3 linked regions of the Homo sapiens genome follow. The protein of the gene in region 1 interacts with the protein of each later gene in a biochemical or structural test. Each region holds a gene or a part of one and is shown in the gene's direction. Other genes may lie near its edges.

Evidence for each region.
Region 2: of the proteins of LNX1 (region 1) and NUMB, one has a biochemical effect on the other in vitro, tested with the Homo sapiens proteins (2 studies listed by BioGRID, with this or other methods).
Region 3: the proteins of LNX1 (region 1) and DAPK1 form a complex in vitro, tested with the Homo sapiens proteins (one study listed by BioGRID).

The regions. Positions count from the first base shown.
Region 1 is NC_000004.12:53,476,356-53,484,085, reverse strand, and holds part of LNX1 (E3 ubiquitin-protein ligase LNX), read left to right. Parts: intron 1-2,231; coding exon 2,232-2,366; intron 2,367-5,343; coding exon 5,344-5,521; intron 5,522-7,104; coding exon 7,105-7,333; intron 7,334-7,730.
Region 2 is NC_000014.9:73,454,980-73,463,526, reverse strand, and holds the start of NUMB (protein numb homolog), read left to right. Parts: upstream 1-4,980; 5' UTR 4,981-5,034; intron 5,035-5,793; exon of another isoform or gene 5,794-5,898; intron 5,899-8,547. UniProt on the Homo sapiens protein: Regulates clathrin-mediated receptor endocytosis. Plays a role in the process of neurogenesis.
Region 3 is NC_000009.12:87,696,704-87,704,433, forward strand, and holds part of DAPK1 (death-associated protein kinase 1), read left to right. Parts: intron 1-303; coding exon 304-501; intron 502-1,952; coding exon 1,953-2,091; intron 2,092-3,413; coding exon 3,414-3,534; intron 3,535-6,325; coding exon 6,326-6,514; intron 6,515-7,730. UniProt on the Homo sapiens protein: Calcium/calmodulin-dependent serine/threonine kinase involved in multiple cellular signaling pathways that trigger cell survival, apoptosis, and autophagy.

The DNA.
Region 1 (7,730 bases):
CCTCACAGATGGCACCATCTCACTTTGTCCTTACATGGTAGAGGGGCAAACAAGATTCCTCCAGCCCCTTTCATAAGGGCTGTAATCCCCTTAGGAGGGACCTGCCTTCATGACCTAATCACCTCCCAAAGGCCCTACCTCCAAATGCTGCCGTGTTGTGGGTTAGGATTTTAACATCTGAATTTTGGGGAAACATGTTCAGACCATAGCAGGCAGGAAGAAAATATCTCCACCACCATTGTCTGAGTCAATGCAAAAGAGCATGGAATTTCAATGCCCTCATTTCATGACCTTTCTCCCCTAGCCCAATAACCATCCCTGTATAGGAAGAAAGCTGGCAGGTCACTGCCCCTTCTCTGTTGTGGTGGTGAGTGGGCAAGGGATGGGATGAAGAGAGGAACCACCAAACCTTACTCCTCTCTCTTCCATCTCCCTTGTCCCTAAACCAGGTCTGTCTTGGGAATCTTTCTAATCAAATCTTCCATATCTCATTCATTTTCAACTTTTACTAAAGTGATAAATGAGGTCAGCTGGCTACTTCAGCCTAGGCCACCAGAGAGCTCTATTTATGTGAGTTTCATAGGTCTAAGATTTAGTCTGAATGACCTGCAGCTCTGAAATCTCAATGGTCAGCAATTCTGGAATAATGGCCCATACTACCTGACACATGTGAAACTAATCTGTGGCAGAAAGACAATTTGTAAATGTATCATTGTATTTGTCTGCTCTCATGCTGCTATTAAAGACATACCCGAGAATGGGTCATTTATAAAGGTTTAATGAACTCACAGTTTTACATGGCTGGGGAGGCCTCTCAGTCATGGTGGAAGATGAAGGAAGAGCAAAGGGATGTCTTACATGGTGGCAGACAAGAGAGCCTGTGCAGGGGAACTCCCATTTATAAAATCATCAGATCTCGTGAGACTTACTATCTCGAGAACAGCATGGGAAAGACCCACCCCCATGAATCAGTTACCTCCTGCCAGGTCCCTCCGATGACATATGGGAATTATGGGAGCTACAATTCAAGGTGAAGTTTGACTGGGGACACAGTCAAACCATATCGATGATGTGGAGTGGACCTTTCCAATAAGTACTATATTTGCTATTCTGAATGCCTGTCCAAATATCAATGTACATAGCAGAGAGAATTAGCAGAGTAACTGGTAGTTCCATAAAAAATAAAGAAATCAAGGCAAATTACTCTTTTGCAGTTTTTTAAACATTTTGTATTTCAATAGCTTTAGGAATACACGTGGTTTTTGGTTACATGGATGCATTGTATGGTGGTGAAGTCTGAGATTTTAGTGCACCTGTCACCTGAATAGTGTACACTGTACCAAATAGGCAGTTTTTCATCCCTCACCCCACTCACCCTCCCCTTTTCTGAGTCTCCAAAGTCCATTATATTACTCTGCCTCTGCATCTCCAGAGCTAAGCTCCCACTTACAAGTGAGAACATGCAGTATTTGATTTTCCATTCCTCTGTTACTTCACTTAAAATAATGGCCTCCAGTTCCATCCAAGTTGCTGCAAAAGACATTTTTTCATTCTTTTTTGTGGCTGAGTAGTATTCCATGGTATATACATACCACATTTTCTTTATCTACCTATCAGTTGATGGGCACTTAAGTTGATTCCATGTCTTTGTGATTGTGAATTGAAGGTAAAGGATTTTGATTAGGTTGTACATATTAATGTATGAAGTCATCCCCATATTTCTAAAGTGCTAAACCTTTCCTATGCCCAAATATTTGCAAGTGTCAGGCTCAGGATTTCTCTTCCTGCAGTGGCAAGTTACTGCCATTAACTCCATCTCTTTTTCTTTACTGTGTACCATTGATCTTAGATCTTTGCTTTGGGCTGCTACTTTACACAGTGCACCTAATTCTATCTGGGAAGAACTTAGGGCATGGCTTGTGTGTGGTACAACCATTAATTAAAAATGAATTAGCAATATCTGATGATGCCTTTTCAAAGATTGGAAGGAACCAAACCTTCCCTAGTTTTCCCTTGGAGCAACATTTACTACCTGGTTTAAGGATAAAGGAAAGAGCTCTCATGCTCTTGGCAAATTACAAGATGGATAGTAACAAAAAAACCCAACAAACTAGAAATCATGTTTTGCCATAAAAAAATGGTATAATCAAAGTGATGTTTTTGTAAGCTCCTGGTGCTGAATGCAGTGGATGGAAACTGACAGTGGCTAATGCCTGTGTCTTCTTGCCCAGGCCAGTGAAAGACGTGTTCACCTCGTCGTGTCCCGCCAGGTTCGGCAGCGGAGCCCTGACATCTTTCAGGAAGCCGGCTGGAACAGCAATGGCAGCTGGTCCCCAGGGCCAGGGGAGAGGAGCAACACTCCCAAGGTGAGGCCTCTAGGGCAGGTCGCCTGCTCCTGCAAGGGGCTATTTCTTGGGAAGGCTGCTTGTTTTAACATGTCTAAGTGTCATCTCTGGACTTTTTTACTTAAAGAAACACTTTGACTTGTAAAACTAAAAGCCCAAAGTCCCATATTTAAGACTTGGAGAGATAACAGGTGTCTCCCATCCAAGCAGGAGAGAAGAAGGTGCAGGAAAGTTTTGAAACCTGATCATGCAGACCTCATACAGGGACCTGATTTCTAGCCTAAGCCAAATAAATGGCATGTTTTTACCAAGAGTCATCTTGTTTGAGGACTTATTTTATTCACTTTGAAATGAAGCAAGCAGTTTGCCTGGTTTCTGGCTTTTGAATTTTTCAGTCTGCCTAGAAATGAGTGATTTCCCCGCTACTTTTAGTTTTTGTTTGTGTTTGCCGAAGGGCCCAGGAAGATAATTTAAACACTTGAAGCTCATGTAACATTAGGGAGTGGTGGGGATTGGGGCAAACCAGAGAGCACATGTTATATGGCATTCAAATCCAGAAAACTCTAAAACACTGTGGATCTGTGGGTGGAATTCATTCTTCAGGCCACCAGTTTGCAGCCTCACTTTAAATGAAGTGACTCAGCCCAATTTGTACTTCTCTCTGTGGCTTCTATTAGAGGCAATGCCTTAACCTCTTCATTTGGATGCGTGTTTAAGCAACACAAACCTTGTTTAGTCCAAATTAAGAGTCCTATAGCTTTGGCTTGGCATCCTGTTGTGATGCTGATGAGCTTCTTTCAGTCATCTCTCCTGAGTTCTGGTTTCATGGCATCACTTGTAACTAAAAAAAATTCTTAAAGGTAGCTCATTCTTCTTGCAACAGAAAGTAGGGAATGCCCTTTTCTTTCTACGTCAATCTATATGTTGGTTGGAATAGCTTACAAATTGAGTTTTTGAGTAATATATAGAGAAACAATATTCAAATTTTTTATTTTGGAACATCTCTGCTTTATACTATGTTAATTACATAGCCTACAAGGTTATACACCCCTCCAGGTTCTCCAGCCAGCCAAGCCTCATAAATCCATAAATTACCTGTTTCTCTACAATAAGGAGTCTAGACAGACCAGATATATCCTGCTAAAACATTTTATGGATAAGGACTCCGTGATGTCTTTTTGCTAGTAAATGCTTAATGTTTAAATTTAACTGATCATCTTTATTAATGAAAAACTAGTTTATTAGCTTAATTAATTAATTGAAGTTTTTATCCAATTAACTAATTTTAGTTGAATTAACTAGAATACGTCATATTCTAAGTCATCAAATTATGGAGAAGGTAGCCTCCATCTGCACTGTGGTTTTAGAATTCCTTCCACCTCCTCATCATGAAAGAGCTGGGAGGATCTGGTCACATTTCTGCTGCAACCCTCTGTCATATGTCTTAATTCCTGGAAACGTGCAAACTGACTTAGTCGGAATTGTAATTATTTCCGTTTTAACTTATATTCTATCTGACTTCTGAAATATCCTCACAAAAAAGTAACATATTTAAAAAAACTGAGACATATATGGCTCTTTGATTATTTCAGTTTTTATATTCTTACTAAAATCTTGTTTGGTTTAGGAAACCAGGTAGCTTTTTAAAAATAAGAGCTTAAACAATTCAAAGAAATACCAAAGAAGACAAAGCAGGATTTGTGGGACAGAAAACTTTTAGCCAATTAAAAAAGTTAAGGAATGCTAGGCATCAAATTTTGCATGGTTTACCTCTGTGGGGAGGCAAGGCCTATGAGCAGAAAGAGTCATAGAGCGACTAAGTGCACATGGAATGTTTATTTCTGATGTAGGGTTTTGAGGTACATGGGTAGGTCATTCTGTTATTCTTTATGCTTTTTTACTTGTCTAAAATGTTTTATTCTAAATATCCAAAGCAAATATTCTAAAATGGAAATACATCTTATAGTTTGAGAAATATTCAGGTACCCATTGTGTTTTTAATTAGCTTAAACTATTTTACCATAAATTATGTTTTTAAACATCAAGGAACATTGTAAGGTGTCCAAAGTAGGGTGAGGAGAATGGCGAAAAAAGATAGATAGAAAAGTCATCTCTTTCATACGTAACTCTCCTCCTCTCCAGCCAAAGTCAGGTAACCCTGGGTGTGAAGCTTTCACAGATGATTTTCTTTTTCCATTGCTGACATTGGTCGCTTTTCTGGTTAAGAAAGGAAATGGTCATGGACACTGGTTCATGAGACAGGACACATGCACACATGCCATATTTGTGGTATTTCAGCCATTGCATCCAGCCCCTCAGTGCACAACTAAACATCTCTTGCTCACCGCAGGCAAGGCTGCCTGGTAAGCACTGAGCAGGTGTGAAAGAAGACTCTATAAAATATGGTTACTTTTTTTTAACATAGAAAAGTTTCTGATATTTATAAATGACAGAGTGTTTTTGAAATGCTGACTCACTACTATCAGGAATAAATGACTCACTTGAGAAATTTTGGGTGCAGTTCACTCTGTGTGCTTAAGATTCCTCCATGGCCAGGAGCAGTGGCTCATGCTTGTAATCCCAGCACTTTGGGAGGCCAAGGCACTTGGAGCCAGGAGTTCCAGACCAGCCTGAGCAACAAAGCAATACTTTTTCTCTATGAAAATATTTTAGAAATATATTTTTCTAATGGTCTGTAATCGGTTCCTTCCTCCATTTTTACTCTTTCCTTTTGAAGTGTAAACTTTATCTGAGTTAACCTGTAGAATTTGGGACAATGTAACCCTATTATGGTTGGGAGTGGATAAGGTGAGGGTTCTTTCCAGGTGTCTTTCTCTGTGATTTCAAGAACCACCATTGTATTTATGCACTTTGCATAATTTATGCAGCTTTGGTAATTTTTGCATTTAGAAAATGGAAACCCACTTTGCATTTTCTACATTCAAAAACTACCAGAGTTGTGAATTCATGTGCCATGTTTTTCCATCTGTGCCTTCAGCCCCTCCATCCTACAATTACTTGTCATGAGAAGGTGGTAAATATCCAAAAAGACCCCGGTGAATCTCTCGGCATGACCGTCGCAGGGGGAGCATCACATAGAGAATGGGATTTGCCTATCTATGTCATCAGTGTTGAGCCCGGAGGAGTCATAAGCAGAGATGGAAGAATAAAAACAGGTAAAAAGTAAAGGGATTTTAAAGGCACTGGGGTGGCAGAGAATCAAGAGAAATTAGTAGCTTGTTAGGTGACTATTTTCAAAATTAATGAGAGAATGTGGGAGTGATCGGCCAGGACTTTTGTTACCCATTGACCATGATTGGTTTGAGTATAGATACTAGACCAGGTTCCACTTTTCTTAGTTGCAGGCCAACTTGCCTGCAAGTAAAGCTAGAATCTCCAAACTGTTCCAGGAATTAATAGAGAACTGCTACAGTTATGAGCAAGTTACCTCTATTAAATGGCATAATGTAGTTCCATTCATTCTAAGTGGTTCTTTAGTGGGTTGATCCGGTGGTGGAATTCATGAAATAATTCATGAATTATTCAATTATATGGGTTAGATAGAAAAAGTCATTTGATAGATTTGATTCAATGAATACTCATTAAGTGAAAGTATCATGCTGGATACTTTCCCAGAGTGAAAATTATTTCACTACTTTAAGCTCATGTATTCTGGGCTACTTTGAGTAAATAAAGGAAGATGATATCAAATTTGCCTCTACAAATATGTATCCTTAATAATATTGTCAATTCATTCAAGAGGGTAGGTAGCTCAGATGGGTGAGGAATTATGCCATTTAAAAGTCCAGGTTCAAGAGATAAACTGTGAAGTTTCCCAAGTACAGCTGCTGAGCCTGAGGAGCCACAGGGGGATGGTATCTTAAGAGATTTAGTCAGCTGTCTGAAAGATGCTTCTTTCGGGTCAGAAAGGACTCAAGGCCTTTCTCTTTTTTCTCCTCCTGTCTTTTTGCTCTTGCTGTGGTTATTCTGTATAAGAAAGTTAAGCAAAAGGGGACAGAAAAAAACAGGATGAAGATAAAAAAATAGAAAATGGAAATAGGGGAGATGTATATTTTAATTTCTCTTTTCTGCAAAACATCTGGGTGGAAAATGATGAGGCCAAACAAAGTGGCTTGTTAACAAATGACTTGTTAACAGAACATAAGCTAGAGGATTATATGATCTATATGGAAATGATCCTGCACATAGTAGGCGCTTAACCAATAGTAGCTATTTTCACCTTAGCAATGAAAATGTTTTTCTTTCTGCTTCTTTAAGAGTGCAGCTCCAAGACTCCTCTGCCAGACACTCTCATGGGTAGTTTCTTTTCATTCAATCCATATTTACTGGAGGCCTACTACATGCCTGGCTCCGTGCAAATGCTGGAGCTTTTGCCAAATCCTCCTACTTTATGCTAAAAACAAGAAACAAAAGAGTGAAAAAGTAGGTTTTCTTTGATTAAATAGTGAACAAGACTAATTTTCCTCTCTCACTCCCTTCCTTCCTTCCTTCAGCGGTATTCTTGTGTAAAACACCGATAGCTGTGCTTTAGAAAACCCCAAACAAGTCTTAACAGCACCTTGGAATGCACACACTGTTTACCATTTGCTATGTGAGCACCCAGCCTCCCGTCAACAAAGAAAACCTTTGCCCTCTCTGCATCCCTGCAATCCCAGTCAGCCCCTATCCCCTTGCACTTTAAGCAGAAGTCCCTGTTTGTGCTCTCACTAAAGATAGCTTCTGCTTCTCTGGCCATCAGGTGACATTTTGTTGAATGTGGATGGGGTCGAACTGACAGAGGTCAGCCGGAGTGAGGCAGTGGCATTATTGAAAAGAACATCATCCTCGATAGTACTCAAAGCTTTGGAAGTCAAAGAGTATGAGCCCCAGGAAGACTGCAGCAGCCCAGCAGCCCTGGACTCCAACCACAACATGGCCCCACCCAGTGACTGGTCCCCATCCTGGGTCATGTGGCTGGAATTACCACGGTAAGTCCAAACACAACATCCCTGTAGGGGCGTGGGAGAAAACGATTACATTTCTTAAACCACTCTTTCACTCTCTAGGGCTGATTCATGGCACTAGCATCTTAATTAGACCCAGTCTTGGTTGTGGGACTGTGAAATAATTCTCTCTTCCCATTTGTAACTGAAAATGCATGCGGACATTCTAGGGCAAAGACAAAAGCCTGGATGTGGAAATACTGTTTGGCGTTCAGGTTGAGGAGCTCACAGGACTGCCATGTACAGCTGTGTAGGTTGTTCATGCAGCAGAGAGCTCCACAGACAGGCAGAGGGGGCAGAGACCCAGCCTGTGTTTACACCCCTTGGAGCTGAGTTGCACTGCCTAGGAGAAGGTTCACCTTCGCCTAATCTGCTAGTGGCA
Region 2 (8,547 bases), on another chromosome or scaffold:
AGCTCCTGGGGAACCAAGGCCTTAGGAAGTGAGTCCTGCCAACAATAACGAGGTGAGTGAGGCAGGAAGCAGATCTGTCCCAACTGAGCTTGAGATGACTGTGGTCTTATAAGAGACCCAATGCCAGAGAGTTGACCCACAGAAACTGAGACGATAAACGTTCTTTTAAGCTACTGAGTTTTGGGGTAATTTGTTATGCAAGACAAGATAGCTAATATGTATCTCATTTTATAGATGAAGAAAATGAAGCTTTAGGGTGATGAATCAATGTTCCCCAAATTACACAGTTGGTAAATGGCAGAGCCAAAGCTTTTGGAACATACTAAGTTCGAGGTTCTAGGGTCTGAGTTTAAGTCTGCTTTCTCATGAGGTTCCAAGTGATTGGGACACTGCAGTTCTGGAAGAATTCTACTCTCTGAAATCCTTGGAGGATAGCCATGTTTCCAGGAAACTCTTTGTGTGCATAAAAACAGAGATGGACAAAAGTTTAAATGGTGCTAAGTGCTTTGAGTCGGTCCACTCCCTGCTGCAGAAGAATGGCTGATCCACCCATAGATCTGGTGATAGTAACCAGGAGCTCCAGTCAATAGCACAATGGCAGAACTCAGAGCTACAGCCCATCCATTTTTACAAGCGCTCAAGCCATATTATGTAAAGCAGGCGGAAGGGGGCATACACTTTTCTTGAGGATGAAAATGAATGCATTTAGTAATGAAAATGCATAGTGTGGTATTTAAAAATTACATGAGCTCTGGAATCAAATAACAAATGGTTCTGCCTGAGAGACCAGAACACCTTCTTTCACTGATTTTTTTTTCCTTCCCATCCCTGAAACAGAGCCTTGAACTTTGAAACCACAGTACCTTGTTCCAGCGTGGAAAGCAGCGTGGCACTTCCCGGTGGTGAAAGCACCCCAGCTTGAAAGGGTGAAAACACCTTCTCCCAGATAGTCTCCCTTTGTTTAGCCAGTGCTTTTGCCTTAAGGAAATCAAATGAAGGTATGCTCCTTGGTTGGCTGCTGAATCTGTCCTTCCTTGTCAGCTTTGCCCAGAGCAGCAGGCTTTGAGCTCTGGGAGGATTTCCAGGTGGCAGCAGAACAACGGTCCCATAGGCTGGAGCCTGGCACGCTTTCCCTTTTAACCAGTGGCAGAGGCTGCACTTTGCTGGTGTAATTATGCAACCTAGTGTAAAGTCCACATGGGTGGGGATAGGGGGTAGGCAAGGCAGGACTGTAAGCTGGCTCAGCACTCTGATTGGGTTTTTTGACTGTTTTTCTAGCTTTTCTTACCCTTTTCTCTCCTGCCCCCTCATCTCCTCCTCTTCCCTCCTTTTCCCTCCCCTTCTCTCTAATCCCTTCATCTTTGTCAGCCTCCACCCTCAGGGATCCCTAACTCAGGAAGCTACCTCTTATCAAATATTTTGGCTTGCCTCCAACTGCTAGTGGCAGGCAGTTCTGGCCCTTGTCTGCTATCTGAGCGATTTTCTTCTCCACCGGTTGTTTATTTCTCTAATCTAGTTGGAATTGGAATCGTGTGTAGAATCCAGAGGAAGAAAATCCAAAAGCAAAAAATGGATCCTTTCCCTAGTGAGATTGCCCCTGTGGGCTAAAATAGAAATGGAAAGAGACTTGGATTCTTTTCCCTTGAAAAGTGACATTATGAAAGAGCAGGAGAAACAGCATTAGTGTACAGGAAAGCCCAAGGCACACTATATCACTCCTCAGATATTGGACATCACTCTGAGTCCTCTATTTTCTGCTTAATTGGGATTATAAATGCTATTTTTGCCCCGAATGTACCTGCCATCTTGGTCGTGCCCAAGTGGCTCTGAACAGATACCATCTGCAGGACCTCCACAGCCAGCCATGCAACAGGAAGCTGCAGACTCCCAGACTCCAGTGTTCTTGTTTTCTGAGAGGGAGCCCTGAGAATGGTAGAGAAGCAAAAAACACAGGAAAGAAAAGAAAAAAGCTGGATGGAGTAATTACATGATAGGGTTACCTTGTGCACGTGAAAGCAAAATGTAGGGATACAAGCAATAACCCCTCCGGTACTGCACAGTCTTTGATAACACAATAGCCTTCTGTTATTTCAAGGCATGTTCCTTGAAACCTTCCTTAAGGTTTTCCCACTACTTACTGGGTTGTAACATATTTATTTTATATGTCCTTTCTTAACTGATATTCACAAAGAATAGGAATGATAGATGTGTGTATATGAGCAAAAGCATTTATACATGCTTTCTTTTTTTTTTTTTTTTTAGTGTATGAAATAGCGGCTGACTTTTGTGACAATTTTCCACCCAGTTTTGTGATAGTAATTTCGCTGCATTCTTCAACTTAGATGGCAAGTCCTCTTAGCAAGGCTGGCCTAATTCTATGTTTTCTATGGCACCTAGTCACTATGGCTGTGCAAGAGCCATTATTACCCAAAGTACCATAATAATGGTCATGTCCTCCTATGACGTTATTGTTTCCTATCTGTCAGGACATTAATTGTCTTCTAACTTGCTCTAAAATTGGTAGCATGGCACACTGCCAAGACTAGAGAGAAGCAAGCTGCTGGTGATATATTAAAAGGCTGTGTAAAAGGACATATTGGTATTTGCTTTTTCTTGGGGCATCTTCACATTTGCATTACTTCACATGTTATGGGATGTTAGCTCAGGCTTGCCTTATGTCTTGGCGTCTATCTTATCATGGTCAATGTCTGATCTTTCCTTCAGCTGAATGATTCAGACATCTCTAAGTTATTTTGGCTTTTCCACTTTCCTTTCACAGGCTTTTTGTGAGTCATTGAATTGAATGGGAGGTTATTTCTAAATTGGAAGGTGAGGAAGAGAGGAGGGGGAGGAAAGTTCCGGAAAATAACTAGGAAAAGGCACTTTATTGTTATGTATAGTTACTGGAGGAATAATTTCTGCTTAGTCTGGTGATAGAAGTATGTACTTTATTTAAACTTGACTAAAAATATAGGCTAGAAAAAAGACAATATTTTTCTGAATAATAAACCATACAGTTTTAGACTCTTTGTAGCTTGCTCTGCAAAGAACAAGGAGGTTAGTAAATAGAAGAAATATGAGACAAAGGGTTAGCAGAAAGAAGAAAGAGACAAAGCACATTTCCAAAGTCCACATCCTTGAGGTGAATGCCTCCTTGACAGTGTCTTTTTTTTTTTTTTTTTTTAAGACAGAGTCTCACTCTGTTGCCCAGGCTGGAGTGCAGTGGCACCATCTGCAGAGACAGGGGTTTCACCATGTTAGTCAGGCTGGTCTCAAACTCCTGACCTCAGGTGATCTGCCCGGCTCGGCCTCCCAGAGTGCTGGGATAACAGGCATGAGCCACCGCACGGCCTGACAGTGTCTTAAACTATCCCTGGGTGTTGTTTCATGGCCCATGGGTATATGTATCATAGGTGGGGTTGTGAGAAAGTACATTTAAATCTGATTTAGAAACTGAAAGAGTAATCAGACCAGCATTTTGTTATTTAGGAGCAGGAAAAGTGGGTGAAAAAAAAGGAAAAACAAAAAGCTAATGATGAATATATTTCTAGGAGCACAAGAGTTTTTATAGCAACATTAGATTTCTCAAAAATGCCTACTGTGATTTGTACCCAAGTGAATAAAAAATGCAATCATTTATTCTTGTGCATTGTGCCAAGTGAGGAAAAAAAAAAAACACACACACACACAACCCGGCAATTCATTCAATGGCCCTAATTTAGACTGCTAGGAAGAGGTTTAGAAAAAAAAAAGAGAGAGAGAGAGAGAAGCTTTTAAAGTATCTGACACACAGCTAGTAGGGCTATTTAAGAACTGCTGAACAGAAAAACAAAGTGGCAGTGAGAGGTGGGGGAAAGCAGAATTCTCATTTCCAGAGCATCATAAAGGGTATAATGTGGCCCGCTTATTAGAAAGTTGCTGGCCGGGCGCGGTGGCTTACGCCTGTAATACCAGCACTTTGGGAGGCCGAGGCGGGCGGATCACCTGAGGTTGGGAGTTCGAGACTAGCCTGACCAACATGGAGAAACCCCGTCTCATGCCTATAATCCCAGCTACTCGGGAGGCTAAGGCAGAAGAATCGCTTGAACCTGGGAGGCGTAGGTTGCGATGAGCCGAGATAGCACCATTGCACTCCAGCCTGGGCAACAAGAGAGAAACTCCGTCTCACAGAAAAAAAAAAAAAAAAAAAAAGTTGCTAATGGCTGTCTGGTCAATTGGCAGGGGTCAGCCAGGAGTGGATCTGGAAGCTGGAGAACTCTCAATACGCCACTTCAGTTTATTGACGACATTTATAATTGCAACCGAAGTTGACTGATTTCTGCTAAATGAAAGTTTGCGCTTTGCCCTTTAGCATTGAGGCTCCTGGAAAGAACTTCAATGAAATTGGATGCATTGAGACCAAAGAAAAGAAGGGGACATTTTTATCTCTCTGATACCTTTCTCCCCAGGGCTTGGAAACACTTCTTAAACACAACCTCTAATGTTGGTGTTTTGTAAGTACTACCCCTATGAATAAAGCTAGCAGAGATAAGCTTCTCCTTGCAGGAAGTGAGCTGGAGAAGTGGAAAAGTTTACAGAGAAAACTCTACAACAAAGACTTAACCCTTCCCGGGTAACCACGAATGTGAGCGTCTGCCCCTCCTTTGCTTTCTACTGCGCAACCAAACTGTGCACAAGCGTGAATCAACCTTAACCGTCACGTCTCTTGCCAGTTAGCTTAACAGACACTTTTAGCAGCCTATCATAACTTCGAATTGCCCAACCCTCAACCAATTACAACTAAAGCTTGGGCTAGGACGCTCCAGGTCCGGGCGGGGGCGAATACCGGGTTTAGGAAAAGGGGCGGTAAAGAGCGATGACGGGCGGGTATACTAAACCAATCAGAGAGGAGAGCTGCCGCCCCACTATCCAATGGATAGGTTAGAAGTATGAAAGAGGGTGGGCCTGTTGTCATGGGGGAGGTGGTGGCGCTTGGTGGCCACTGGCGGCCGAGGTAGAGGCAGTGGCGCTTGAGTTGGTCGGGGGCAGCGGCAGGTGAGTGCCGGTAACGCGGGTCAGAGATCTGGGGGCCGTCGCGGGGCGGAATCTCCAGCTCAGCACTCCGGAGGCGGAGGCCGGAGGAAGGGGGCCTGGACTTCGGGTCGGGGCCCGGGCCGGGGCCGGGGCCAGGGCGGAGGCGGCGGGGGCGGCGGCGAGTTCGCGCTGACTGGGCTAGGGGGAGAGGGGCTGGGCTTCTGGCTGCGGAGTTCTCCCGAGGAAGGTAGGCTACGGCCGGACCCGCGCGGGTCAGGCCAGGAGGTCCCTTGGGACGTCCAGCTGCTCCGGTCTAGCGCGCTGACCGGCGGCCACTGTGTGAGGAGTAGGTATCTGAGGAAACGGAAGCGGCCAGGGTCCCAGAGAGGGGGTGACCTGTAACGACCTGCTTCAAGGGCGGGGTGTCTTGGGAATACCCAGGACGGCTTGGGTGCCAGGGAGAAAAGGAATCCGGGAAGCCCGGCAGCGGCCGGTGAGGAGAGAGCGGGGTGGGGGGCAGGGGAACTGGGAGTGGCCCCGGTCCGAGGGAGGTAGGAAGGCCGAGGGTGGCCAGGGTCCCGGGTGACAGGGAGCAGACTTGCTCCAAGTAGGGGCGTCTGAGGAAACGCTCGGAGGGGGTTGGGGACCCTCCTGAGAAAAGCGGCTGTCCAAGGGAGGGGGCTCCTGGAGAGATGAGGAGCAGCAGGTCTTCGGAGGGTCGGACGAGTAGAGATCTTGCACCGCCTGGGGGAAGAACCGGAGCTCCCTGCGCCCCCATAGCTGAGCTGGGATGGGAGACCCAACTGGCCTGGCCGCTCCGGCTCTGAGGATCCCTAAGGGACCAGGAAAGAAGTCCTCGAGGAGTGGCTCGCGTTTGAGACCGGGGTGAGGAGCCAGCAGGGGAGTGGAAGTTCCCTCGGTCGGAGAGGAGTCATGCAAAATGGGACGGAGATGGGCGGAGGTGGGAGAGAATCCCTATAGGAGGGGATAAGGTAGAGAAAGAAAGTTGCCCGAGGAGAGAGTAATGGTTTCGTGGAACTGGCTAGGACAGTAGATATATGAGAAATTAACAGTGGAGCCATGTAGGTTCACAGGTCTTCACAAATAGAAGAAACTTCAGTTTCGTAATTAATATCAAGATGACATCTAGGACCAAAGCAAAGCTCCTAAAAGCAAGGTTAAGTGACTTGTTTTAGAAAAGAAATTTGTTTTAGGATGATGGCAGTAATATTAGGAAATAGGTTCATTGACAGGGTGGGGAATTTGGGAGGGAAAAGGGGAGGAGTAGCTGAACTAAAGGAGTAGAAGTAAATACTTATCAGAAAGAGGGTAGGCATACTCGGCTAAAGTGAAAAGAAGTTTTGAGTTCTAGTTCCACCACTTAGCTAAGTTTCTGTGCAGTTTCCTCATCAGAATACTAATAGTAATAGTTCCTACTTTATAAGGTGGTGGTGGTGTTTTTTTTTTCATGTGAGTTGGTATTTGTAGAGCTTTTAGGATAGTGACTGGCACATAGTCGTGTGTACTGGATTGTTCAATAGACGATAAAGACCTGACTTCTTAAATAGAAGGTAAAGACCTGGCTCGCAGATGTTAGCTTGCATCAAAATCACCTGGAGGGCTTGGTAAAATGTAGATTGCTTGGCCCCACCTGGGGGTTTCAGTAGGTCTGGGGTGGGGCCCAATAATTTATATTTATCTCAAATGATGATCACGTTGGTCAGAGGACCACACTTTAAGAACCACTTACTTTAATGAAACCGGTAATAATGGTAGCAACTTTAAAATACCTGCTAAAGAGACAGGTAGAGGCAAATTGCCTAAAAGATCCTATTATAAAGGATACTCATTTTTAGCCTGTGTTTTTCAAACTGTGGATTGTGATTTATTAGTAATTTATAAAATCAATGTTGTGAGTTTTTACCTGCATTGAAAATAAAATGTAGAACAGAATAAACTGACATTGCATTTGGTAAGGAAAAGTATTGTTTTGGGAAACTTTTCTCCTACATGTATGTACTAGGTCACAATGTAAAGTGTATTTCTTTTTTTGAGTTCCTGGCCAAAGGATAAAATATATTTCTTACAGTTAAAAAAGTCTGAAAGCTGGGTGCGGTGGCTCACGCCTATAATCCCAGCACTTTGGGAGGCCAAGGCGGGCGGATCACTTGAGGTCAGGAGTTCAAGATCAGCCTGACCAACATGGTGAGACCCCCATCTTTAAAAAAAATACAAAATTAGCTGGGCGTGGTGGCGCGTGCCTGTAATCCCAGCTACTTGGAAGGCTGAGGCTGGAGAATTGCTTGAACCCCGGAGGTGGAGGTTGCAGTGAGCCGAGATCATGCCATTGCATTCCAGTCTGGGCAACAAGAGTGAAACTCCATCTTAAAAAAAAAAAAAAAGGTTTTTTTGGGAGTATTATATTCCATTAAATTTCTTCAGTTTCTGATTTGGTTCCTCCTGTGTTTGTCTTGTCACATATTGTGTTATGCCTCTGACTCTGGAACTTTTTTGGATATTGAGAATCTTTGGCATGAGAACTTAAGGGAATCTGAGGCAGAGAAATTGAATGGTGTTTCTCAGATGTTGTCCGCTTTTGTTTCACTTGTGCCCTCTTGTTCACCCTTTCTTTTTTATCACTGTACCGTAAAGCATTGTTTGTAAAAGCCTGAGTATACACAGACATATTGACAGTAAACAACACTGAAATGGACTGACTTGAGAAAATTTCATGTATAGAAAATAAGCAAAAACAAAGTAAGAAACACTGCAAAAGAGAAAAATGAAAAGATATTTCCTTTTTAGAGAGTAAAAATATTAAGTATTTCTTATCCTTACACTAATATAAAACATATACAGATATTTTTAAAGGAACTAGATATACAGTTTCTAGGTCTTTGTAGAGAAAAGAAATAGTGGTAATATGTGACAGCAAAATGCACCTGGGATAGAGGCTTAACTACAAAGTAAATCATTTATTAAGAGGGAGCTTTTGTTTAATGGTTTTCTCCCTTGAGAATAAACTGGATGTGGTACATGTTGTAAACTTAACTTGTTTGAGGAACCTAAATGTAATTTACAGCGTGTTTTTAAAAAGAATATGTATGTTTTATCTGTACGTGGTTTGATTTTTCTTCCATTGAAAGCTAGATGGTTTATATTTAGGAGTTGATTTAGATCTGTTTTTATGGCTGTTAAGAACAGGAAGCAGTATTGAAAACTGAAAGAGATCCTTGCAGCTTTCTTTAAAATCTTTAATCCAGGGGATTATGTAACCTCTTCATTAATGTTTTATGAAATTGTGAAGAAACTGTTGGTATAGCTTTGCATCAGGATTTTTGGTTTATTTTTTTCTCTCTCAAAAATAATTTTTAGTTTTATTTCAGATTATATTTCCTTAAAATTTTTATTTTCATTTGGAAGACTGCAAGGCATATAACCATTGCATATCTGAGTTCTAAAGCAGATGCAGACTTTTCACAAAATAAATTTACTGCTTTTTTTCTGTGACATAAGTTTCGAGAAGGAAAGCTT
Region 3 (7,730 bases), on another chromosome or scaffold:
GAACACACTCACTCACTCACTCACTCCTTCCCACCAGCACCAAGCCATTTGGGAGGGATTTGCACTTAGGACCCAAACACCTCCCACCAGGCCTCACCTCCCACATCACCTCACTGAGTGATTTCAATATGAGTTTTAGTGGGGAACAAACCATACCCAAGTCATAACAAGATGTATACACATACAGAAGAATGCCATAAGTATCACTATGCCTACTTCGAATCCGTGGAACGCTAAGAGAATTTATGATTGAAATTTGGTTAGTGGTGTTTCACGATTGTTATCATTTTTCTTTTTCTGTAGGAGTTGGCGATTTCAGCGTGTGGGAGTTCTCTGGAAATCCTGTGTATTTCTGCTGTTATGACTATTTTGCTGCAAATGATCCCACGTCAATCCATGTTGTTGTCTTTAGTCTAGAAGAGCCCTATGAGATCCAGCTGAACCAAGTGATTTTCTGGCTCAGTTTCCTGAAGTCCCTTGTCCCAGTTGAAGAACCCATAGGTGAGCTAAGTCCCTGCAGGCCAGTGATGTCCTACCTGTGGTTGGCCAGGAATCGCCTCCTCCTTCCAGGCTTCTGCCCTGCTCCTGCCACTGCTGCTGCTGGCCTTGCACCAGGCCATGAGCAGATCCCACCGTTTGTGGCTAACAGCTGAGCCAACTTCCTTTCTCCTTCCTGCTGGGAGACTTCCACTCTGAGAAGCTTCATGAGGCTCAAGTGTTCGTGGTATTCTGCAGGCTGTTTTTGTTTCATGATTGCATATTCCTGCCTCAAAGGCCCACTTTGAACAATCCTTTGAGAGGCATTTCTCACTTTTTTTCTACACTTGAGAGCCATGGTCATTGTATGTTGGGTGCAAAATGGAATCCCTGCTTGGATAGCTACTGCACCTTTACCTAAAGGGTACAGAATTAGTCAGCAGAATGAGCAGTTCTTCATCCTGTAATTCCACTAAGAAACAAAGAAAGAGGCCGGGTGCAGTGGTTCACGGCTGTAATCCTAGCACTGTGGGAAGCCAAGGTGGGCAGATGCCTTGAGCTCAGGAGTTCAAGACCAGCCTGGCCCACATGGCAAAACCTCATCTCTACAAAACATACAAAAACTTAGCCAGGTGTGGTGGCATGTGCCTGTAGTCCCAGCTACTTCAGGGGCTGAGGCAGGAGGATTGCTTGAACCTGGGAGGCTGTGGCTGCAGTGAGCCAAGATCGTGCCACTGCACTTAGCCTGGGTGACACAGTGAGACCCTGTCTCAAAAAAAAAGAGAGAGAAATGAAGAAAGGGAGCATGTTGACTGAATGTGTTATCTTAACTTTATTCCTAGAGGAGAGGATAACATGAAATAAACTTCCTTTGGTCTTTGCCCACAACAAGAGAAGCAGCCTTCCCTGGTGAAATGCAATACTCAGCAGTCAATTTTTTTTCTTTCCGGAAAAGCATATAATACAAGGAGTTGGGCTTAATGCCCCTCTGGGTACTGCCAGTTTTGCCTCTTTCTTTGTCCTTTTTTTCCTTTGTTTTAAACACTCCCCGAAGTGGGAGGCTCTTTGTGTGACTTGCAGGTCATTTACCTCTGACCCATCTCTGTGGTGTTGCTGCACTCAGGCGTCTCTCTTTGGTCTTGTAAGCGGCATCCCTTTTGTCACAGGTTAAATTTTCCCTCTCCTTGTAAGTAGGGGCTATTTGGAGACTTGAGAAACTGCCTTTAGTCATTCTGGTCCACTTTGAGCAATTTTCCTTGTGGCCTAGGAGATAGGCTTATCCTGTCGTTGGCCATGCTGGGGCCTTCTAGGGTCACAGTGCACAGCAGGCGTGGGGCCTTCATCTCTGTGGCATGTTGCACTTGTACCTGGAGAGTCGGCCTGGGCATGAGGCCAACACACCGCCCTCACCTGGGCAGGAGAGGCAGCCAGGTAGGAGGACCCACCCCCTGAAGCAGTTCCCTCTCTGCCCCCAGCCTTCGGTGGCAAGCTGAAGAACCCACTCCAAGTTGTCCTGGTGGCCACCCACGCTGACATCATGAATGTTCCTCGACCGGCTGGAGGCGAGTTTGGATATGACAAAGACACATCGTTGCTGAAAGAGATTAGGAACAGGTGAGGGGCAGCCACTTAGTCTCCAGCTCACGGGTAGCCTCCTCTCCCTGAGAACTGAAGCAGAGGTGTGAAAAGTACAAAGGAAGTCTCATGAACCAGAGAAAGGTTTTAAAGGTCTTTCTTTCTTGGTCAACTCTTTTCTTGTACAGGTCTTGTATCCCTTATTGGAAATGATCGGCTTTAGAAGTGTTTCTGATTTCTTATTTGTTTGGATTTTAATATATGTACATATACATAGCAGTTGAACATCCTAGTTCAAAAATTCTAAATCTGAAATGCTCTAATAACCATTTCCTTTGCATGTCTTGTCTTTGCCCAAAAGGTTTTTGGATTTTGGAACATTTCAGATTTCTGGATTAGGGATGCACAACCTTTATTTTTCATTTTTATTAAAACAATGAATCCACATAGTAAATCAAATACAAATGAAGAGCACGTGATGAAAGCAACCCCCTTCTTTCTACCTCCCAGCAACACTGCCCGGAGGTGACTTCTTTTAGCTGTTTAGATTTCAGTACTCAGTATTCAGTGTTCAGAAACACTAATCAGTATGTCTTACAATATAAGTTGCAACCTACTAGTGAGTCTTAAAATTCATTTAGGAAGTCGTGGCCAATTCTTTTTAAAATGGGATGGAATGGAATGGGATAGGATAGGACAGGAAAGGACAGGACAGGATAGGATAGATCAGATGTCAAGTATTATTTTGTAAAACGTTTGTTTCACTGATGAGTATGGGTATGTACAGGATTATGATGTAAAATATATGTTTTTACTCAGAGTCTATCAAAACAGTTTGAACCTGCAGCTTTCTATAATATGCTAGTATCTCTGATCTTGCATTATCAACTTGAGACATTTATCTATTGTCTTGAGACACTATATCTGTTGCCAGATATAAAAATGGGGCTTCTATTAATATTTTTAGGTCAGTGATGTAGCTTTTGCATTCACACCTCTATTCTTAGTCCCTCCACTTTCCACAGTATCTCTTGTCCTCACTTGTAAGGTGCGAGCATTAGGCCTCACCTTTCCTGCCTCGGGAGAAGCTGACATCTTTCCATGCTGTGCTCCTGCTGCTTCATGCAAACCTGAAGGTCCCGCTCCTATGACTCAGACTATATGCCAGTTTCCCCAAGTCTCTGCACCCACTGTGATGAGGCAGAGCCCACCAACAGCAGGGATGGGGAGGGGCCTTTGCAAGGACACCAGAACTTTCCTTCCCTCCTACCAGCCTCTTGAGCCAGTAGGAGCCTGGCCCCTCCATTAAAAGGCCTGGGGACATTGACTCACTGCTGAGGAGGCTGCTGCTCTTCCCTTAGGTTTGGAAATGATCTTCACATTTCAAATAAGCTGTTTGTTCTGGATGCTGGGGCTTCTGGGTCAAAGGACATGAAGGTACTTCGAAATCATCTGCAAGAAATACGAAGCCAGATTGTTTCGGTAAGTACACCATGGAAAGAGCCTGGACCCCTTTGTACTTCCTTCCTGGTTTGCCTCTGGTTTCAGGGAACTGCTTCATAGTAGGACCCAGTAAGAGGTGTCTGCCTGGACATGTCTTTATCCTAGTGCCCTGGGAAAAGAAAGGAAGAATAGAGAAACAAGGAGATGATGGGAGCTGAAGGGTTATTATGGGCAAGGTGGACCACTTCAATTTTATGAAATTCTTACCGATTTATTGGTTTCTTTAACAATATTTTATTTATTTATTTTATTTTTTCAGAGACAGGATCTCACACTGTCATCCAGGCTGGAGTACAGTGGTGTGATCATAGCTCACCGTAACCTTGAACTCCAGGGCTCAAGCAATCTGTCCATCTCAGCCTCCCAAGTAGCTAGGACTATAGGCACGCACCACCATGTCTGGCTAATTTTTTTGATTTTTTGGTAGAGACAGGGTCTTACTATGTTGCCCAGGCTGGTCTCGAACTCCTAGGCTCAGGTGCTCCTCCCACCTCAGCCTCCCAAAGTGCTGAGATTACAGGTGTGAGCCACCATGCCTGGCCAATTTTGGGAAAAAACCAAAAAATTCAAAAGTGACTTATTGTGGAATATTTAGAAAATTCAGAAAAGTAGAAAAACAGTCACAAACTTTTTTGAAAGACAGAAAAGAATAAATGAACAAAGGGAATGAGACTGTATTCTTGGGTTGCAAGATATGACTATTTTATTTTTCCCTAGTTATATAAATGTAATACAATTTCAGTTAGCATCTGAATGGGTTGAGGGGATTGGGATTTTTATCTTAAAATTTCCATGGAAAAATTCATTAAACCTATTATAAAGCCCCTGATAATCAATACAGTTAAATAGGAGGAAAAGCTTAGAGGGTATAGAAGTAAATCATAATATCTTTAGAAATATAATGGAAAATAAATATGTCATTTGAATTTAATGGGGTAAAGATTATTTAATAAATGAACCTGGCACAACTGGCTATTTGTCTGGAAGGAAATAAAGTTGGATTCCTACACCCTACAAAGTCCAAAAATAAATGGATTAAAGCTTTTAAGTAAAAACATGAAACAATAAATACCTTGAATAGAAATTGTGGAGAGTGTATTTTCAAAATAACTAGGGACTGAGGGAACCTGTTAAACCAAGATCTAAAACCCTAGAAATTTTAAAAGAAAATATACCTGTTTGAAAATGTAAAAATTTTTAAAATTTTTTTCTAGCAAACAAATTAAGTAAACAAAGTTGAAAGGTGAAATAGGCTGGGAAAAAGCATTCTCAATGCTTTGGACAGATAAATGGTCACACCGTAATGTTCAAAAAGCTCTCCGGAATTGGTAAGAAAAGGGCGAGCGTCCCAGTGGAGAAGTGGTGGCATTCACTCTGGAGTCTTCCTGCTGCCGAGGCCTGAGGACAAATGCGGGCAGATGCCTGTCTCCCTCTCTTACCTTTGAAGCTGCCTCTGGGTGTATTTTTTTTTTTTTTTTTTAACTGCTTTGCTAATAAGAAAATGCTGTGCTTCCCGCACCAGATTCTGGTTCTAGATGTGCTTCCAGAATTCTCGGGAAACCCTTTCCTGTCTCCAGAAAACCCTGCCCTTCACACCAGATATCCTCGTTGGGGTCCCACTGTGGCATCATCAGAAGATAGGGGGTAGTCCGGTGAGGCCTGGGAGGAATCTGTCACAGAAACCAGGGGCGGTGATCTGGGAACTAACAGTGGTCTCTGAGGGCCCCTGTGCTTCCCCACCAGGTCTGGATTGAGGCTGCATTCCTGAGGCAGGAGGGAGTGTCCCTGGAGATTTTTGAGCTGGGCTCTGGCATGATCTGCTGCTTCTCAGACACCCCCCGCCCAACCCCTAAACTCCTGAGCTCAGGCAGGTGGAGCCCACCACATCAACTGCACTCACCCCTGAGAATTTTGTTTTTGAATGCAGAGTGGAATTTAGCTGACACAAAAGAATTTGAGAGGGGAGTGCGGAATTAATGGCACGGTGTAGCCTGTGGCTTATGTGGTTTCTAATTCAGAGGTATGTGGATTACGTGAGTCTGTAACATATGCTGATCTAATTAACCAAGTTAAAAGGTTAAAAATCCACTTCAGCCTACATACCAAGAATGGGTCTAATTGGAAACAATATTTCAACAACAGTCCCCACGAATGCCTAATTTACTGGTAAACACTCACTCTAATATTGATGATGATACTCATTCTCTTTTCCTCTGTTCATAAAGTGATCATTGCCTGAGTGAAACAGTCACGAGAGAGAGAGCGAGGGAAGAAAGGAGGGAGGGAGGAAAAAGTGAGGGAGTGAAACATTAGGAGTTGGTGAACATTAGTTGATTGAGTGACTGAGTCCACAATTCCAAAAACGTTCCTAGAAGACTCAAAATCTATTTAACATGAACTAAAGAGCCTTTATAAAACTTTATATTTGAGCAATAGATGAGGCTTAAAAGCAAGTCTAAAAGACAACTGCCCCAGTACTCAACCCAAAAAACACAAACTAGCCAGACACAGTGGTGTGTACTTGTAGTCGGAGCTACTCAGGAGACTGAGACAAGAGGATTACTTGAGCCCAAGGGTTTGAGACCAGCCTGGGCAATAGCGAGACCCAGTCTAAAAAAAGAAAAAAAAACGTCAACAACAACAAAAAAACCCACTCGTTCATCAAATCACCTGCAAGGCGCCTGAATGAAAGGTGTCCTTTCCACTGTGGCTCTGCTCAGGGCACCCACAGCTGCAGGTGAGTTAACCTGTCTGGCCCTGCCCCCTCTAGGTCTGTCCTCCCATGACTCACCTGTGTGAGAAAATCATCTCCACGCTGCCTTCCTGGAGGAAGCTCAATGGACCCAACCAGCTGATGTCGCTGCAGCAGTTTGTGTACGACGTGCAGGACCAGCTGAACCCCCTGGCCAGCGAGGAGGACCTCAGGCGCATTGCTCAGCAGCTCCACAGCACAGGCGAGGTGAGCCCCTGGGAGCCCAGGCAGGGGGCCGTGAGAGGTGCCAGGGACTCAGCCTGTCCCAAATTCCAGCTCTTGGAAGTGGTGTGAGCCTGGGGAAGCAGTGTGGAAATGGTCCAGCTAACCTACAACATTTCCACACGTGTGACAAACACAGCCTCAAGTGACGCTCTGAACTGCAGTTCTCGGCTCACCTTAGGAGCTGTCATTTTGTCTTGTCGTGTTTTGCTTTTATTTCCAGAGTCTGTTAGTTTGGGAGTGCAGTGCCCACTGCCCTGGGTGACTGGGTCTCTCTTCACTCCCCCTGGGCACCAGGAACTTAATCTGCTACTCCTGGCAGCCTTCAGGATGGCTTCTTTGTATCAGCGTGGAGTCATCAGCTCCACACAGATCTCCTGGGTGGGAAAACAGTTGAGAAAAGGCAGTGAGGTGTCCTTGTGGAGGCAATGTCTGGAGATACAAAGACAGAGAACTCTGGTGCACAGATACACAGAGTAATCATAATTAAAGATGCACATTAAAAAACTCTAGCAAGCAATGCCCAGCAGAAATGATTGAGAATGGGAGGCTTTGCTCTGGTTCTGTGACATTGAGCACCAGGGCGCGGTTTGGAAACCCTGTTCTAATGGCATCATATGCCTGTCCCAGGAACGGGGGCAGTGCCTTCGTGTTTCTCCACCATGTGAAATTGGGAGCCTACATGAACTAGTGTGGGCCAAGAAGAGCGGTTCTGAATATTGCAACTAAAAGCAGCTCTGAGATTATTAAAAGCCAGATGCTTACCTCCCCAATCTCAGGTGCCAGGTCTGGCCCTATAGCCAGTTTGTATGAGTCATACAAATTTCTTGAAACTAAACCTGAATCCACAAGCCAGTGACCTTGAAAACTGGAGTCGCCGGGCAGTAATTTCATCAGCCTTTAAACTCCCAGTTAAATGGCCAGAGAATCTGCCAACTCATCCAGGAATACTTTAAAGTGATTGAATCCAAGGAAGAACACAGGTGAAGGACCACATCTTAGATGACAAGATACTGCTGGATGTAAAAAATGTGTCAATTCTAATTCTAAACTCCTTTGGCACAGGAGTCCCTTGCTTTCTAGTAGTAGACCAGCAACTTTCTAGATCATATCATATAGTCTCCTTTATTTGTCATTACATCCCTGCTTGCCCTTGAGAGTTTAGTAAGTAAATGAAGATGTAAAGAAGGAGGGTAATTAG